2 linked regions of the Homo sapiens genome follow. Each later gene encodes a partner of the first gene's protein in a complex. Each region holds a gene or a part of one and is shown in the gene's direction. Other genes may lie near its edges.

Region 1 (3,751 bases):
TGAACCAAAATTACAGAGAAGTTCAGAAAAACTACTTTCTTGGAGTAGTTGCGGACCCAGAGCAGGACAGTTCATAGACTGGGGCACTGGTAGGGTGGGATTGGCTTCCTGGAGGAAGTGTCAGTGGCTGCTAAGAACTCTTGGCAGGGCAGAGTGGGGTGGGGTGAAGCTTCTTGTAGTGGAGAAACTGAAAGCAGTTGTGGAAGCTTGGAGGTGGGCCAACTGAGCCAGACCTTTGTTGCCTAGGGCCACCGGCTGGGGTGCGTGGCCAAGAGGGCACTGAGGAGTGCAGGAATCTTAACCTGGAGAGTGACATTATCTCAGATTTGCTTTTTTTAAAAAAAAAAAAAATTTAACTGGACTTGATTGGGTACGAGGGAGTGTAAGAGAGCAAAATCTGTGGTTCTCTCTCAGCTTGTTTCTGCACTTAATATGAGCAAGCCCAAAAGGACAGATTGCTCTACCTTTGCCACAGGCCCCTTGGCAAGTTAGATTAGAGAGATTAGAGAATGAGGAGGGATCTAGAAAGAGATAAGGTAGTTCACTGGGGGGCTTTTGAAAGAAAAACAGGTCCCAGGCCTGATATAAATCTGGCCTTTAAACTTCACAAACGAAACCAAAAAAGAAGGGAGCTAAGTCAGCCAGGGTGACGTGCCACACCCCAGAGAATAGAAAAAGAAAAAAAAAAAAGAAAAAAGAAAAGAAACAAACAAACTTGTTTCGCAGGATCCAGATCTTTGAACTGTGTCCTGGTAAAGGTTGCTTCAGAGTCATTTTGGTTCTGTGTTCATTAAAAATGTAGATCTAGGCCAGGCGCAGTGGCTCAGACCTGTAATCCCAGCACTTTGGGAGGCCGAGGCGGGAGGATCACTTGAGTCCAGGAATTTGAGGCCATCCTGGGCAATATAGTGAGACTTCGTCTCTACAAAAAATAAAAAATTAACCAGGCGTGGTGGCAGAGGTTGCAGTGAGCTGTGATTGCACCGCTGTACTCCAGCCTGGGTGACAGAGCAAGATTCTCCCTAAAAAAAAAAATAAATAAATAAATAAAATAAAGTAGATCTGACCATGTTATACCCACACTTCAGGCCCTTTAATTTCTCTTTATTGTGGTCCACAAGGCCCTGCATGGCCTGGCTACTGCTATCTGTGGCTCCTTATCGAGGGTTCAGGCACATGGTTTCCTTTCACCTAGTCGGGGGTGAGGTGGGGTGAGGGGCTTTGCACATGCTGTTCACTGGGACTGGAAGCTCTTCTTTCCACATTTTAAAATTAACTCCCAACCCTTCCTATAGAACTCAGATTCCTTGCCTTTCCTTTACCCCCCTGAGCAGCCTTCCCATTAGAAATTATCCAAATTCATCTGTACTCTTCCTGGTGCTTATATTATGATTTTTATGATTTGTATGATTATTTGATGTGCATTTAGAATCTTTGAATAGATTCTTAGCCATGCGGTTATTGACTAAGCGAATGAACCAGAGAAGAGAAAATGGAAGAAATGATTAGCTGTGATGTTAGCAGTTGTGGAATTTTAACTTAATCACTTCTTGACAACTAAGTAGAGATTTGTCATATAGGACAGTTCTAGGTGTCCCACAGATATTGATAGGATTGGGTTATTTATTTATTTATTTTTTTGAGACAGGGTCTCGCTCTGTCACCCTGGCAGGAGTACAGTGGCGTGATCTTGGCTCACTGCAACCTGTACCTCCCAGGCTCAAGTGATCCTTCCACCTTAGCCTCCTGAGTAGCTGAGACCACAGGCATGCACCACCATACTTGGCTAATTTTTGTATTTTTTTTGGTAGAGATGGGGTTTCGCCATGTTTGCCAGGCTGGTTTCCAACTCCTGGGCTCAAGCAATCTGCCTGCCTCCACCTCCCAAAGCGCTGGGATTACAGGTGTGAGCCACTGCACCTGGCCTATTTATTTATTTATTTATTTATTTATTTATTTATTTATTTATTTATTTTAGAGACAGGGTCTTGCTCTGTTGCCCAGGATGGGGTACACTGGCACGATCATAGCTCACTGCAGCCTTGAACTCCTTGACTCAGGTGATCCTCCCACCTCAGCCTCTTGGGTAGCTGGGACTATAGGCCTGCACCACCATGCCTGCTTGGGATTGGGTTTTTAATGTTATAAAAGAAACCCCAAGTGAATGTATGAGTAGGCCAAATCCAAATCTTCTTGAATTAAAGTATATCATCTACTAACTTCAAAAGAGAAACAAAACCCATTGACTAACCCTTCCTAAAGGAGCAGGCCATTTATATTAATACGTAAGAGGAGGCAATAGGGTATAGTGGCTAAGAACATGGGCTTCAGAGTTCAGGCTAATCTGAATTCAAATTTTGGGATATCCAGCTCTGCAACCTTGGATAAGGATTTCATTTAAGCCTTTATTTCCCTGTCTGTAAAGGAATGATGTTACCCGCCTCATGGCATAACAGTGAGGATTTAAAATGGGCTGTATTAGACATCCAGCATGGTGTCTTGCCCATGGCAAGCCCTCAGAAGGTAGGGGAGACGCTGTTAACTTGAAAGTCAAGTAAGAGCAACAGACTCAGTCCTGAATCCACCCCAGCTCTGCCACTTGTGTGATCTTAGGCACAGGTCACTTAGTTTTTCTCTGAGCCTCAATGACTGCATGTATAAAGTGGTGATCATGACTTCAACCTTAAAGTTAAAAGAAAAAAGTGTCCCCAGAATTCCTAGAACATAAAGATGCTAGGTTAATGCTGGCTAAATAAACGGAATTGCCTGGTGCTTTACTCGTATATCAGAGTCAGTGGCCACAAAGCATTTATGGAGAACCCAGTTGCTTGGGTTCTCGGCAAGGTGCCACATTTAAGGAGTTTCATGGGTACAGGACTATAAAATTAGTCTTAATTGAAAAAATAGGCCCAGGGCATGGTGGCTTGTGCCTGTAATCCCAGCAGTTTGGGTGGCCAAGGCAGACGGATCACTTGAGCTCACGAGTTCGAGACCAGCCTGGGCAACATGGTGAAACCCTGTCTCTACAAAAATTACGAAAATTAGCCGGGCATGATGGTGCGTGCCTGTAGTCCCTAGCTACTCAGGAGGTTGAGGTGGGAGGATGGCTTGAGCCTGGGAGGCAGAAGTTACAGTGAGCTGAGATCATGCCACTGCACTAGACCTTGTCTCAAAATAATAATAATAATGATTTATAATCTAGAAGTAGCACTGGTTGTAGAATATACAGAGAGCAGAGGTAGATGTGCCACCACAAAACAAAAAGCATCCTCTGTTGGCTAAGGGCTGGTGGGTGGGGCACTAGAACAAGCCTTATAGTTGGAGAGCGCCCCCAACACCTTTGTATTTGTCAGTCACTCCCCCAGAGAGCAAATTGTCTTTTTCATTTGTCAGCATTTAGAGCAGTGGCTCTCACCCAGGAGCTATTTAACCTCCCAAGGGACATTTGACAATGTCTGGAGACATTTTCAATCTTTGCAGTTGGGAGGAGGGAATGCAACTGGCAACTAGTGAGTGGAGGCCAGTAATGTTGCTATACATCCCACAATGCACAGGACAACTCCCCCCAACGAATGATTATCTGGTCCAAAATATTAATAGAATTAACAGAAGTTGAGAAAGCCTGTTTTAGACAAATACCTTTGCAGCACAGAAAGAAAAAACATCAATGGTTTTTGTTTTGCCCCCCCCTTTTTTTTTTCTGAGGCTTTTTTGAGGCAGGGTCTTACTCTGCTTCCCAGGCTGGAGTGCA
Region 2 (3,751 bases), on another chromosome or scaffold:
TTCTTTCCTCCAGAGTTTAGTATAACAACTTTGACTCAAAGCAGTTGCTGCCTCCCCAGAGTTCATCCTATCCTCTTGTCTAGTCTTAGATTAGCTCTTCTAGGGAGGTGGAATGAGTTTGGGCTCAGAAGTGAGGCAAACCTGCTGGGTTTTAACATCTGTGTCCTGCCACTTTGCTAGCCTAAATATGATTTTTAATGTATCTCAGCTTCAGTTTTCTCACCTGTTAAAAAAAAAACAATAACTTACAGCATTGTTGTAAGCTTAATAACCTGTATATATATATATTTTTAATTATCACTAGGATGGCAATATGTCTTAGTTTGTCTAGGATAATCCCACTTTAAACCTGCGGTTCAGGCATAATTATTAATAGTACCTTCTTTCATTCAAAAAGTCTCTTGGTTTAGGTGATAAATTACGTGATCATCCCATCATAGTGCCATGCGTAGAATTGTCATGTAAATGGCACTTTTACTCATTATTATTATTAATAGCTTGGCATTAATATGCTTAGTGGACCAAGTACAATCGGGCAATAAATATTTAATGAATGCCCACTATGTTTAAAGTGCTGTTCAGCTGATCTGCAAAGCTATGGCTGTAAAAACACCGAAGGGAATTTTAAGTATAATTAAAAGGAGATTGGAGAGTTAAGAAATAGTTGATGACAATGTGCTTCTTTATGCTTTTCTAGGCTTACCTTACAAATTTGAAGTACAGCAGATGTTAGAAGAACCTCAGTGGGGATTAGTATTTGAAAAGACAAGATGGATAATAGAAAAATACAGGCTCTCCCATAGGTATGTACTGTGGTTTGAGATGGTTGCACATCTGCAGTGTTGCTCATTAAATTATGTTTCAGAGAAAACCCAAGTTAAATATAAAATTGTGATGTATGGCATCCGTGATAGTTTATTATGAAACTGATTAGTTTATAGTATTCGTTTCACCAGTTTGTTTTCATATTTCTTCCTACAGCAGCGTCCCCATGGATAAAATCTTTCGCCGGGATTCTGACCTGACTTGTTTGCAGAAAGTAAGCTGTCTTCATTTTAATTGGTTCCATTGTTCACAGATTCTGAAGCTATTCATCTCAATGTGTTTTCCCATGATGCCTAATACTTTGTGGATAATTTTCTGTATATTTCTTTTATTACTTTTTCCTTTGGAAAATTAATTTCTAGGAGATAATTAGTAACGTTTTTTGTTGCCCAAGCTTGCACATAGAAAAAATTCTATTTTAGAATAAATTTGTCAGTGTTGGCTGATTTTAGCAGATTATTATTATACACAATGGAGAACATTTTTCTTATTTTATTAAATTTGAAAGTGCCATGTTTCCATTTTAGCCTTAACAATTGGTCATTTTTAAGAATGATGGTATAAATCTAACAATTAAATTTAAATAGTCATTTTATTTAACTTTCTAATAGGAAATAAGAGTTTTGAATTCTGTCAGTTCACGTCTAGGTTTTGCTTCTGTAATGATTGAAGGCTAGTAGATCTGCAACATTTGTCTTTTTAAATAGCAATTGGGGATAGAAAATTTAAACATTAAGTTTCTTTTTAATATGTTTTACTCCTTTCTGTTATATCCAGTTTTTTGTGTGTTGTTGAAAAAGTATGTGCACATTTCCAAGGAAATAGACTCCAGCTAGCATCCTCATTTTGAAATGCAGAATCCTATGTTTTTATGTACCTAGATTTTTGTGTGTGTGTATACTCAGGATTATTTTGCTTTGTAAGTGTAACTACAAATGGAGAAAAGTCGCAAATACGTCCGAAGTAGAAAGCATCACATAAACAATCTCAGGTTTGTCTCCTTATGTAAAATCATAAAAGTACTAAGCTGAGTGTTCCTCAGCAGCAATTTCCTACATTCCAGCTCTGTGACTATTAAACACAAGTTAATCTTCAACCATTTTTAAGGAGAGTGTTTCTCATTTGAGCATTAGGAAATGTGAGGTCTGGAAAGGGACGAAATAGTGATAGTAATGCAAACCCTCATACTTTTTCTGTATTTAAATATAAAACTTTTCTTTTCAACTAGCTTTTGGAGTGTATGAGGAAGACTCTGAGCAAAGTGACCAATTGCTTTATGGCTGAAGAATTCTTGACTGAAATAGAAAATTTGTTCCTTTCCAATTATAAAAGCAACCAAGAGAATGGAGTAACCGAAGAGAACTGTACAAAGGAATTGTTAATGTGATTATTTTAAAGTTAAGACATTTTAATCTTGACACAGTAGATCTTACTTTCAAAGTTATAAACTTGAAGTGATTGTAGTTAACATTGGCACAGCTTTGGTATTTTTTCTCTATTTCACAAAATCCAAACTTTGCCACATAAATCATGTGAAAAGGAAGAGATACAAATTTGTTTTCATATAGTGATTATCAGAGTGTTCTGCAAACCAGGGTCCACCACGGTGTTCTAGTCCTTTACTGAGCAATGCTGTAGGCTGTGAAACTAAGCAACCTGGTCGGCTTTACTGTTGTGTTCAGCTTGGGATTTGGACTATGTCTCTAAGTCATTTCTTCCCTGAACTAGTCATTTATGTTCCATTGTGGTATCTCCTATTTCATTTAAAAGCACTTCCATTCTTTCCATATATTCTGCTGAGATTTGTTTATGGCTATAAATGAGATATGGATGGGTGGTCACTGAGATAATTAATATGGTTTAGAACTACTGATTAATAAATCTAACAGGAGACCAGGAGAGGCATGACAAGAAAATCTTAAAAACAGGAAAAACCCAAAGGAGAGAACTAAATTACCAGTTTCTAATCATAGATACTATCTTCCATTTCATTGTATAGCAGTAGTATCATAAGATATGCCATTTTCTCAGCTATCTGAAAATTTTTAACCAATTTTACACACATAAAATAATTAGCTTCAATTGTGAGTCCACTTACATTAGTAGGTGTGATAAAACCTCATTTAACTGGAACATAGGTAATCATAACTCAAACTTTTTTTCTACTGCCTACTACTAGGAGAAAGAGGCAAATGATAATAAAGCTGGAATAAATCAGAGATTTAATTTTTAAAACAAGCCTTTCAGGACATGTTACATATTCAGCCCAGTTTCATATGCTTTCTGAATCTATAATGGAGGTCAGTGAACTTTTTTAATGTAAAGGGCCAGTTTGTAAATAATTTTGGCTTTTCAGGCCACATATGATGTCTATGAGACATTCTTCTTTGTGTGTGTGTGTGTGTGTGTGTGTGTGTGTGTGTGTTTTACAGCCCTTTAAAATGATAAAAACCATTGTTAACTCACAGGCCTCATAAAACATAGGCTGTTGGCTATTATTCTCCAACCCTTGATCTAGAGAATTTTAAACATTAGAATTTTGTTTTACATTTGTTAAGCTTTACGTCATCTTCAAATGACACCAAAACTCAGAATTATGATCTGCATTTAAGCCAATTTTAAAATAAAATAAGCAGTCAATGCTGCCTCATTTATTGAAATTCAGTAGATTTTAGTTTATTTCTTAGTAGTCAGAGAATTGATTTATAGCTATTCACCAAACATTCTTACTAACGTTTCCTTATATCTAAATCAGATTGATTCTATATTTTGCTTTGTTTGTAATCAATAGCCAATGAAGAATAAGGAGTATTGGAAGAAGCAGTGAGTCAGCTTTAGGTGACCTGGTTCTTGTCTCAACTTTGTGATTTGGGGAGATACAGTTTACTTTCCCTGAGCCTTAATTCTTGTGTAACTGAAGTCTAAC

What was found.
Region 2: KAT2B (region 1) and MYSM1 share a complex: the UniProt entries of both Homo sapiens proteins name them as parts of the large chromatin remodeling complex.

The regions. Positions count from the first base shown.
Region 1 is NC_000003.12:20,043,392-20,047,142, forward strand, and holds part of KAT2B (histone acetyltransferase KAT2B), read left to right. Parts: intron 1-3,751. UniProt on the Homo sapiens protein: Functions as a histone acetyltransferase (HAT) to promote transcriptional activation. Has significant histone acetyltransferase activity with core histones (H3 and H4), and also with nucleosome core particles.
Region 2 is NC_000001.11:58,658,458-58,662,208, reverse strand, and holds part of MYSM1 (deubiquitinase MYSM1), read left to right. Parts: intron 1-697; coding exon 698-803; intron 804-981; coding exon 982-1,039; intron 1,040-2,053; coding exon 2,054-2,212; 3' UTR 2,213-3,751. UniProt on the Homo sapiens protein: Metalloprotease with deubiquitinase activity that plays important regulator roles in hematopoietic stem cell function, blood cell production and immune response.